Linked DNA regions of Homo sapiens: region 1 is linked to region 2. The links come from fine-mapping of genetic effects on gene expression. A gene starts in region 2. The other region holds a variant in brackets. All regions are shown on one strand. Distances are between the middles of the regions.

Region 1 (5,380 bases), 300 kb before region 2:
ATAAGGAAGCTCCACCACAAACTGTTCAATTAAGAAATATTTAGGTGAGAGGGGGTGAGAAAGAGAGAGAGAGACAGAGAGAGAGAAGAAAGAGGGGGCGGGAGAGAGACAGTGAGGAGCAGGGAATGGCAGCTTTAAATTTGGGATGGGAGCATCGAATTAAAGGGTCGGGCATCCTGACAAGAGGGTCTGGGGCTTGGTGTTTTTCTTAAAACCCTAAAACAAACAGGAAAATCTGTTTTTGGAGTTTCCTTACTGTTGCATCTTCCGCCAAACTAATTTTAAATGATGTTTGAAGAAGTATATTGAGGAGCATGGTGTGTGTGTTGGAGGTAAGAGGTAGTAAGGGCTGGAGAAAGGGGTGATGGTGAGGGGCAGTGAATTCATTCCCTTTCAACTTCTCCCAAATTCCAGTCTTGGAACTTTGATTAACCCCCACATCCTGGGCAACAGTCACAAGATTAACTCCATCTGTTTTCTGGACAAATTAAAATCTTATCAAGCATACTCTGTGGGATTTTCCACTTCTGGCCCCCCTCTATGCACCTTATATGTAGAAGAGTGGAGGGTTAGCAGATTGTGTCCAAGATAAGCTTGTGTACAAGTATCTGCTACAGGTAAAATCCTAGTTCCTAAATTAAACAGAAAAAGTGCCCTTTCCAGAGGCAGGGGGCTCTGAGAAGAGCAGGGTTCTTTTAGGGTATAATTTCCCAACTGGCCCAGATAAACTTTGGCCCAGAGGTTTACTCTGGCCCACACAGAGTTTAAAGTTTCATTTTAAAAAATTAGTTGTCAAGGTTTAGAAATCAGTAAGCTTTGTGGAATATTTGGATTCCTGGCTTCTCTTGAAAACTCGATCATGTGGCCATACTGGGCCCTGTCCCTCCCAGCATCACTGAGTAGCTGCTGGCCCCTTTGGACAGGACCTGCTCACTCCTGTTTGCCACAGTCCCTGCCACTCACTCTAGTGTGAACCTGGTTTGCTTCATCCATTCACTTTTAGAATTTGAGTTTAGGACACGTGCCGGAGTCCATGGAGACCTGCAGGTCACCTCTCCCCTTACAAATAAGATGGGCAAAGTTTCCGCATCAGTTCTGCTGGGTGCACTATCAACCACACAAATCAAGGAGTAGAAACATCTCTCAGAGAAAAATAAGTATGTGATACTCCCAACTTCTAACAGAGATTCACTGGAATTCTTAAAGTTGCAGTTTCAACTTTCCACAAAATTCTGGAATCCTTAGGTGCCTAGAGTTCTAACAGATCCCAATAAGAAAACATCAACTGCTGCATTAGCTTTTTTCGGGGACAGTACTTAGAAATGCCTCACATTCTAGAGAAATGGTCCTTGCCCCCAGGGTGTTTATAATCTAGAGGCAGGGACAAGAAACAATCCAGTGAGAAGTTACTTGAGTCTCTTGGAGTTTCCTGATGACCAAGTTCAGGGTAACTATTTATATTTAATATAATCCCAGATCCCAGAAATCAAGGAAAACATGACTCCCCTTCAGAAAGCACACTTTAGAAAACCATCTCTCTAACCTTATGTGAGAATAGCAATTACTGAAAGAGTTGACCAGGGGAGCAATAAAAACACATTAATCCCTTAGTTCCTGAAGCACCTTGGGTGCTCCAGTTTGTGACAGGCTGCAGAGCTTACACAGTAGCAAGTTAGTTAATTAACTGACAGGGCTCGAAACCCACAGTGTTTCTACTTAGAATCTCAGTCTAAGAGCAGGAGGAGAAAGGAGAGGGATGGGAGCCAGAGGGGAGGTGAGGAGGAGAAATAAAAAGAAAAAGCAACATAAAAGGCAGCTTCATCTCCACTGCTTAACCCATCAGTATTCCTTCACTAGGGGGACCTTTTTTAGGGGGCGCCTTTGTCTCAGGAGCCCTAGGCCTTGCTCTTCAAAAAGAGATGCTGCTGGGCTCTTGGCTTGGCTCTCTAAGTCAGCAAAGCACGTAAGAAACCATACTTCATCTCTTAAATGACCTAAAGTCACAGAAATTCTGAATGCTTCTCAGAACATTCGACCAAATATCATGCTGTGCACTCCTGAGCTGGGTTCTGATAGAGGTGGCTATGAAGAAACTGGGCTGAGGTTTGAAAAGGGGATGGCCTCTAGTCATATATATATATATGTGTATATATATGTGTGTGTATATATATATATGTGTGTGTGTATGTATATGTATATGTATATGTATATGTATATGTATATGTATGTACGTGTGTATGTATTTAGAGGTGGGGGCCTCACTATGTTGCCCAGTCTGCTTTGAACTCCTGGGCTCAAGCCATCCTCCTGCCTCCACCTCCCGAGTAGCCAGGACTACAGGTGTGTGCCACAGCAACTGGCTCTACTCACATTTTACTCCTTGCTGCCTCTCTAGTCAACTCTTTGCACCTGGTAAGGATTCACCACAACTGCTTTCCCTTTAGAAAACTTTATTCTTAAGAAGAAGGCACAACATACTTTTTCTTTTATAAAAACACACAGGTCAATGTTTTTTAAAAACACAGCATAATTGTACAAGGGGAAACATTTTGTTAGTATAATCTTACCAATAATGTAAGAGAGGAAAGACTGCCATACTGAAATACATTTTGCTGCTGCCAAAGACGGTCCTATTGTGAAGAAATGAGAAAAAAATAGCAAGCGCCAGGGCCAATTAAGCATCCCTCTCCCCGTTTTTCTGAATACAACACAGTGATCCTCACCGTAACCCCTACACATGTTAATGGATTGT[T/C]AGAGTATCAAATTATTTTCAATGTGCTTTCTTGTTGTATAAACCTTTACCTGCACTTTCTATTTAAGGGGCAAAAAGGGAATGTGAGTGTAAAACACCTGCTCAGTGTGTGTCTGTTGGACTTTGGAGCAATTCAACAAACAAGCCTGCTCTGTTTAATCTATTTAGTGAGTGCAAGGCTTCTAAATCTTCCCCCTCAGCTACCTATATAAAAGACAAGACTGAAAAGGACAGCCACTCCTGGATGGCTGGAGAAGCATTTGGATTTAGACCGGGTTTAATTGGCATATGAAAAAGCAAAACGTCAGCTCTTCAGTCAGGCTCTGAGAAGCTCTCTTTATGTGGGGGGGACATAGGCTAAAGGCCCTGAGGCAAAGCCTGGGGTCACTTACATTCCAGCTACTCTCAATCCAAGTAGCAATTTCCCTCCCTCAGAAACCGGGTCTTCAGGAGCTTGGGGAGGGGAGCTTGGGGAGGGGCTCTGGAGTTGTGTTTTAAAGCAGTACATCTTAATATGAAGACAGGAATTTCTATGATGCTTACGAACATTAGACTCAACATTTTTGCAGCCCCCTTTCCTGGTCTACATTCACACAAACATGAGACACAGTCCCAAGGGAGAAACAGATGCTGGAGGAGCATTTAGGGCCAGAGTGGAGGCACAGAGGAAGCTGGGATTTTTCAACTACCCCCTCCTTGGTTACTCCTGGGATTCCCTTAGGATTTCACGGCACAACCAGCGAAGAGTTTGCTCAGATTCACTTCGGAGTAGCCACTTCGGGACAAGAATTGCTCTGCTGTGTTCTTGAGTTTTCTGTAGTCCTGCAGAACTTTGGGGGTAAAAAATTGCTTCTTCAATTTATCTAAAAAGAGAGAGAGAGAGATTAGAAGTCTCAGGTAGTTTCTTTAAAGAACATTCAGTATTCCACCAGAGAAGGGGATGCTGATTCCATTTGTATCTCCACCATCTTATCTCTGGTCTACCCCTGGGGCCAGTCAGATGCAGCCCCCGCCGACCATTCCTCTGTGAAAGCTTTTCTTCCTTTCCCCTGTCTGTCCGCCTCTCAGCACCTAGCTGACTCAGTGCACTGGGGGACAGGGCCACCCTCTACTGATGTGAACTGCAGGTGCACCCTCATGTGCAGCAGACAAGGTGAGCTCTACTCGCAGACGCCACTTTCACCGGCGCTGCGAGCACATGCATGCAACTGCTTGCGAAGTCTGGACGTGGCAGGAAACACCTAGTCTCAAAGGGAGCTATGGCCTCTGGTGCCTTCCAGCCCCAACTCCCCAGATCAGCTGGGCCTAGTAAGCATTTTCTAGTCCCTCCAGCCCAAGTCCCTCTGCTAAACAAAATTTCCTTTGCTGAAAGAGGCGAGAGGTGAGCGGCCCCGAGGGCACCTGTCTGTCCATGGCCAAGATTTCTTTGCTCTTCTTTGTCCACACTGTGTGAACTCAGGGTATGCGGCACTCCTGCTCCTTTAACCCATTCATCCCTGGCCTTTCCCTTCTGAGCAGGATGCTACCAGCCAGAGAAAAGACCCCTCTCCTTTCCCTTCCCAGAGCCTGCTACTTCTACATGTTGTTTTTTTTCTTTCTTTTTTTTTTTTTGAGACAGAGGTTTGCTCTTGTTGCCCAGTCTGGAGTGCAGTGGCGCGATCTCGGCTCACCGCAACCTCCGCCTCCCGGGTTCAAGTGATTCTCCTGCCTTGGCCTCCCAAAGTGCTGGGATTCCAGGCGTGAGCCACTGCGCCCGGCCCTACATGTTGTTCTTTTAAAGGAGCAGTGGGGCTGTGATGCTCAGGTCTGATCTTTTGGGTGAAGAGAGTGATCACGTGGGGGATGACGCTGTGTTCAGGAACCTGGTAAGGTGTCTGGAGAGGCTGCTTTCCCCGCGCCCCCCCCACCCCCAATCCCCATTTGATGGCTGAGGAAACTGGGAGGTTAAGTCACTTACCCAAGGTTACACAGCAGGTAATCAGAGTTGTAGACACGCAAACCCAGGTAGCCAGAACCCCCAGCCCGCACCTGAGGAGAGGCTCACTTCTGCCCACTCCCCCTGCCACTACATCACTACTCCCACATAGAAATTTGCAGGCCTCAGACATCAGCTGATCCTGAGGTGAGGCCTCCGCCCCCATAAGATGCTGGCCTGTGCCAAAGGGCCTGGGAGCAGCAAGGCTGCCCAGCACCTCCCGATAGGAACCGGTCAGGAAGGAAACACGGAGGGGAGAGCGCGCCACTCACAGAAAGCAAACCTCCAACAACAGCAACACGGGAAGTCTACAAAACACCCGGAAAACGAAAACTCAGACTCCAGATTTTTGTTTCTTGGCTATACATTCGCATTTGCTCTCCACAACCTTTTCTGAATTACATAAGTTGTCCTTTAAAGAACAACCACAGGTTTTATAGAGAATTAAAATGCCCAAAAGGGGTGGAAAAAGAGAGGGGGGCTGCAACAGAAAGACAATTTGAAAGTTCTAATGATCTGAGTCTGGGAATAAACAACAATGGCCCCAACCAGTGTCGGCTGCCTCCCGGCAGGCCAGAGCCACAGGCCAGCAACCCCGTGCATGTGAATGACACAAATGCATCTGATGACTGGGGAGAGCACATTTAAAGAGC
Region 2 (5,380 bases):
ATCCACATACCCCACACACACCATACCTAAGAGTACCAAGGTCTAGCTTTAGAAGGCAAAAACAAAGCAAAGCCGTTTTCTGCATATGATTAGATGTTTACCATCTGTACTTCATGAAGACAAACCATGTCCAGCCTACCCACCATCATAATGCCAGAGCCTGGCAGAAGGCTTATACCTAGTAGGTATATAATAAATATTTGCTGAATGAACCAATGAATGAACCACTGTACCTGCTTTTTTGATCATTAAACTTTCCCTGGCCGGGCGCAGTGGCTCATGCCTGTAATCTCATCACTTTGGGAGGAAGAGACAGGTGGATCACCTGACATCAGGAGTTCAAGACCAGCCTGGCCAACATGGTGAAACCCTGTCTCTACTGAAAATACAAAAAATTAGCCGGTGTGGTGGTGGGCACCTGTAATCCCAGCAACTCGGGAGGCTGAGGCAGAACTGCTTGAACCCAGGAGGCAGAGGTTGCAGCCAGCTGAGATCACGTCACTGCACTCCAGTCTGGGCAACAAGAGGGAAGCTTTGTCTCAAAAATAAATAAATAAATAAAAATTCCCTGATCTTTTTTCATATATAGTAACAGCTAGTTACAGACCTTTCAACTTTTCACTGCCATTATCAAGGTGCCCTGCCTGCTAATACTGAAGAAAAAAAAAAGCCTACATTTTGTTTTTTGGAGTATGTCTCCAATGCTTCACGTAGGTAACTTAGCAAAAAAAGAATAAGCATGAAAAAAATCCAGCTACAAAGGTTTAAATATTTGTTTCAAAATTACCATCTGGAGTATCTCTATCCTCCCCAAAAGCAGACAGACACTAGCTTACAGCAGTCTTTCAGGTAACAATCCTTCAGTCTGCTCTAAAGGAAAAATTCCAGTCACAAGTCCCCAGCAACTACTTAATGAACACCATGACCTAAGAGGAGTCTCAAGATTGCACAGTATCCTCCAAAGTGATTTCCTGATGTTCATAGATGACGTAGTTTTTAGGATGAAGAAAGGGCTTAGTGGCAAATCACTGATAGAGGCCTGCAAAGACTGTTCGTTCACATACTTACACCCAACATCCTATCTGTAATCCAGGCAGGTCGACTCTCCAAAATAGTCTTAAAAAACGAACGGCTAGAACAAATTGAAATCTGTGACTCACAACTAGGTGAATGCAAAGGAAGCTGATTAGGAAGCGAGTTCTCATTAATGGTGATGTATCTGAATGACAGGAGAGGTGACGCTTGAGCTAACAAAGTGAAGCATCTGATTTTAAGTTAGAAGTTAACTGAAGTCACGCTTTAGTTGAACACTTAAAAAATCAGACAAATCTATTTGCATTTTTGTATTCTATTTTTGGAAATAAAAGACACCCCTGACAAACGGAGTGATATACAGGGGATCCGAAATGCCCTAAATTGATGCCATTTTTTTGAAACTTCACCAGGAATGACTAGATTGTGAACAGGATTTCTACGCAGCACTTGAAGAACTTTCCAAAGAATCTGAAAGAAAAATTGTTAATGCATAAAGTAGAAACCCATTACCTAAAAATACAAAACGCGTTATTCCCCGATGACAGCACTTAGAGCTTTCTTTCCTGCTTAGTTACAATGTATAAAATTTTCCTGGAAGTTCCTACAAAAAGGGACACAGATCTGTTCTGTTCAAGCCTTCAAGTGGATACTTAGGGAGATCGCAGTGAAATACTTTCGGCCCCACGGGGCCAGTCTCAATAAAGTTATACCCAGCACGTGGGTGCAACTCACCAAAAGAAATAGAAACGCAATCGACTGTGGAGACTCTCAGTGGCAGAGGTGAGACAGCCTCCCAAACAAAAATCCCTCCAGGCTCTGGTCCTCCAAGAGCAAACCGCGCCTAAAGGAAGCCCGGTCCGACGCCAGAAGGGCCCCCGCCGGGGACGACCAAGGTCTGCGCCCAAACAAACCCGGGTGTGCGCCTCCCTCAGAACCCCCACCACCGGCAATCATGCCACTGTCCCAACCCGGAGCCCCGCGCGCGGAATTGTCCCTCACCACTCGCCCCTATCTCACAGTCGTCGCCGTGCACAGGTGCCATGGTCCCGAATCTCCCGATTCCGCGCCAACCAGCCCAAAACTGGCGCGGGGGCCGAGACAGGCGCCAGCCTGAAAGCCAATCAGCGGCTCGGGAGGCTGCGGACTTCCGGCCGGAAGGCCACTGACGTGCCGCGCCGCGCCGCGCTCCGCCCCCGGCCTTCCCGCGGACGCGCGTTTGGCGCCCTGTGATGACCCCTTAGGGAAAAGCTAGAGCTGAGGGGAAGCCGGAGGAGAGCAGGAGAAAGAAGCGGTCGGGCGCTGGAAAGGAGCCGCCTGGAGACTGCGCAAGCGCACGCATGCTGATGGGAAAAGATTTGGGCGCGTGGGAGAAAGGGCGCTCTGGTTCTCAGAGCCCATTTTCCCGGAAAGGAGGCGCGGGCGGGCAGGAGAGTGGGCGTGGTTGGATCGTTTTCCCCAGAGCCGGGAAAGCGACTGCCTCCTGCTGCGCGCCCTGAATTTTGCCTGATAGTTTGCTTCTCAGCAGTCTGGATACAGTGGCTGTGTGATTAACAACTTAAAGATATATGCTCCGTCTTAACCAAATAACCAGAAGTAGCATTACCAATAAATGGCCATCTGATCTCATATGCCTCCTGATGTAATGCGTATGAAAAAGGAAAAACTTCGCCTATATGGTCTTCTTGCAAAAAATGTCTAACCTGAATCTAACCATGAAGAAACAATCAGATGTATTCAAAATGTAGGACAATCTACAAAACACCTGACGTGAACTCCAAAATTTCAATGTTATGAAAAACAAAAAGGGTATTCAATTTTTGTGTATGATACAATGGCTGTAATGTGTACATCTCATGTTATCTCTTTCCAAAAAGGTATAACATTTTTATTAAATAATGCCTGCCACACATTTGTATTTTTTCCTACATTATTGCCCACATGCTTATTGATCCCTTCTTCATGTGACAACAATTTTGTAATATTTTCTCCAAAGAGGATATAAAGATAATTCAATCTGTCTTCTAGCATGGTTGATCAATACTTGTTTCTTAATTTCTGATTGTTTAGAAAATGTCTTTCAGCTTCATAATCATTTAATATCATGTTATGTGATCCATATGTTGTGATACATAACATGTAGTAATTTACACTTAGACATAACTTCCTATTTAAAGTACTACGACAGATTTATTCCTACACTTCCCTTTTAAAAACTGATGGAAGTTTTATAGTTTTATTATCAAGCTTTTTCCAACCAGGAGAGAACCATGTTGGCTAGTCATTAATAAGAACCAAATCCTTACCTTAACAATTTCACAGCTGATTACTTCCCACATGCCCGGGTATAACTCTAGGCATTTCAAACCTCTTTTCTCTTTCACTACTGCTGTGGTCTGAATGTTTCTCTCCACATAAAATGTATGCGTTGAAACCTAATCACCAGTGTGGTGGTGTTAGGAGGTAGGGCCTCTGGGAGGTGATTAGGTCATCAGCAGGAACCCTCCCTCATGAATAGGATTAGTGCCCTCGGAAAAGAGGCTCCAGAGAGCTGCCTTGCCCCTTCTTCCATGTGAGAACAGAGCAATAAGGCACCATCTATGGACCAAAAAGTGGGCCTACCCCAAACACTGAATCTGCCGGCACCTTGATCTTGGAATTCCCAGCCTACAGCACTGTGAAAAATAAATTCCTGTTGTTTATTAGCCACCCAGTTTGTGGTATTTTGTTATAGCAGCCTGAACAGACTGAGACAATGACCCACATACTTTGTGGGAAAAGACCTGTAGGACACTTTCTCTTTTTGAGATGGAGTCTCGCTCTGTCATCCAGGCTGGAATGCAGTGGCACCATCTCGGCTCACTGCAACCTCCACCTCCCAGGTTCAAGCGACTCTACTGCCTCAGCCTCCCGAGTAGCTGGGATTACAGGCGCCCGCCACCACACCTGGCTAATTTTTGTATTTTTAGTAGAGATGGGGTTTCACCATGTTGTCCAGGCTGGTCTTGAACTCCTGACCTCAGGTGATCCACTCATCTCAGCCTCCCAAAGTGCTGGGATTACAGGTGTGAGCCACCATGCCAGGCCAGACACTTTCATACCATGATATGTCTTCTGGCCCTACACTTTCAGTTCAAAACTCCTGGTAAGTCATCACACTGGGGTAGAAATATTCCTGGAAGCTATTCCTACACCAAGAAGTCTATGAATAACAGCCCGGCGCTGTGGCTCACGCCAGTAATCCCAGCACTTTGGCAGGCCGAAGCTGACAGATCATGAGGTCAGGAGTTCAAGACCAACCTGACCAATATGATGAAACCCCATCTCTACCAAAAATACAAAAATTAGCCGGGTGTGGTGACAGGCGCCTGTAGTCCCAGCTACTTGGGAGGCTGAGGCAGAAGAATAGCTTGAACCCGGGAGGCAGAGGTTGCAGTGAGCCGAGATTGTGCCAGTGCACTCCAGCCTGGGTGACAGAGTGAGACTCTGTCTCAAAAAAAAAAAAAAGTCTATCAATAACTTAAGTATATATGGCTTAAGTATATATGTGGGTTAAGTGCCTTCGACCCACATAAATAGAAGAAATAAGCCCAAACTAAATGCAATATCAACTCCATTTCCCCATAGTGGAATCCCAAAATGCCTATGCCTATTTCACTGCTACTATGCAAGAAGCGAAGTGTATCAGAGGGACAGTTGGAGGTTCTCAAGAGCTGATTGTTAAATATTCCAGTATTTTGTAATCTCCATGTTAAACTGTTGGTAGCTTGAAATCAGTCATGGTGGGAATATTTACACCCTGGAAATTGGCAAGTGGTACAAATCAGAGCTTTTTATTTTTTTAAGGTTTACCAGCAAACCACCAAGTGGAAAGTAGTCATATCTGATTGCAGCTAAAATATCTTACTTTTGTAGATCTACCATTTGATCCAGCAATCCCACTCCTGGGTATCTACCCAGAGGAAAAGAAGTCATTATACATGATAGATACTTGCACGCGCATGTTTACAGCAGCACAATTTATAATTGCAAATATATGGAACCAGCCCAAATGCCCATTAATCAACAAGTAGGTTAAAAAAAGTGAGATATGTGTATATATACATATGTGTGTGTGTATATATCTCACACACACACACACACACACACACACACACACACACACCATGGAATACTACTCAGCAGTAAAAAGGAATGAAATAAAGACATTCGCAGCAACCTGGATGGAATTGGAGACCATTATTCTAAGTGAAGTAACTCAGGAATGGAAAGCCAAACATTGTGTGTTACTCGTAAGTGGGAACTAAGCTACAAGTATCCGAAGGCATACGAATGATACAATGGACTC

Alleles and levels. Positions count from the first base shown, and alleles are read on the strand shown. Sizes are in standard deviations (SD) of each study's normalised expression.
As copies of C replace T in region 1, the expression in substantia nigra of the gene that starts at base 2,121 in region 2 goes down (moderate effect, 0.55 SD a copy in GTEx).

The links. PIP is the estimated chance that this variant, and not a neighbour inherited with it, causes the effect.
Region 1: its variant is fine-mapped to the expression of POLA1 in substantia nigra (GTEx, PIP above 0.99).

What each region holds. Positions count from the first base shown.
Region 1 is chrX:24,994,040-24,999,419 of GRCh38, reverse strand. POLA1 (DNA polymerase alpha 1, catalytic subunit) reads right to left here. Exons shown (of 37, transcript NM_001330360.2): 37 at 2,434-3,615. The coding sequence ends at 3,470. Among named protein-coding and RNA genes, the nearest start is that of ARX, 19 kb to the left of the region's middle. RefSeq lists enhancers at 1-365, 1-470. The variant T/C (reference allele first, on the strand shown) is at 2,753.
Region 2 is chrX:24,690,659-24,696,038 of GRCh38, reverse strand. POLA1 (DNA polymerase alpha 1, catalytic subunit) reads right to left here and starts at 2,121. Exons shown (of 37, transcript NM_001330360.2): 1 at 2,035-2,121. The coding sequence starts at 2,077. RefSeq lists enhancers at 1,860-1,949, 3,652-4,152 and a silencer at 2,140-2,299.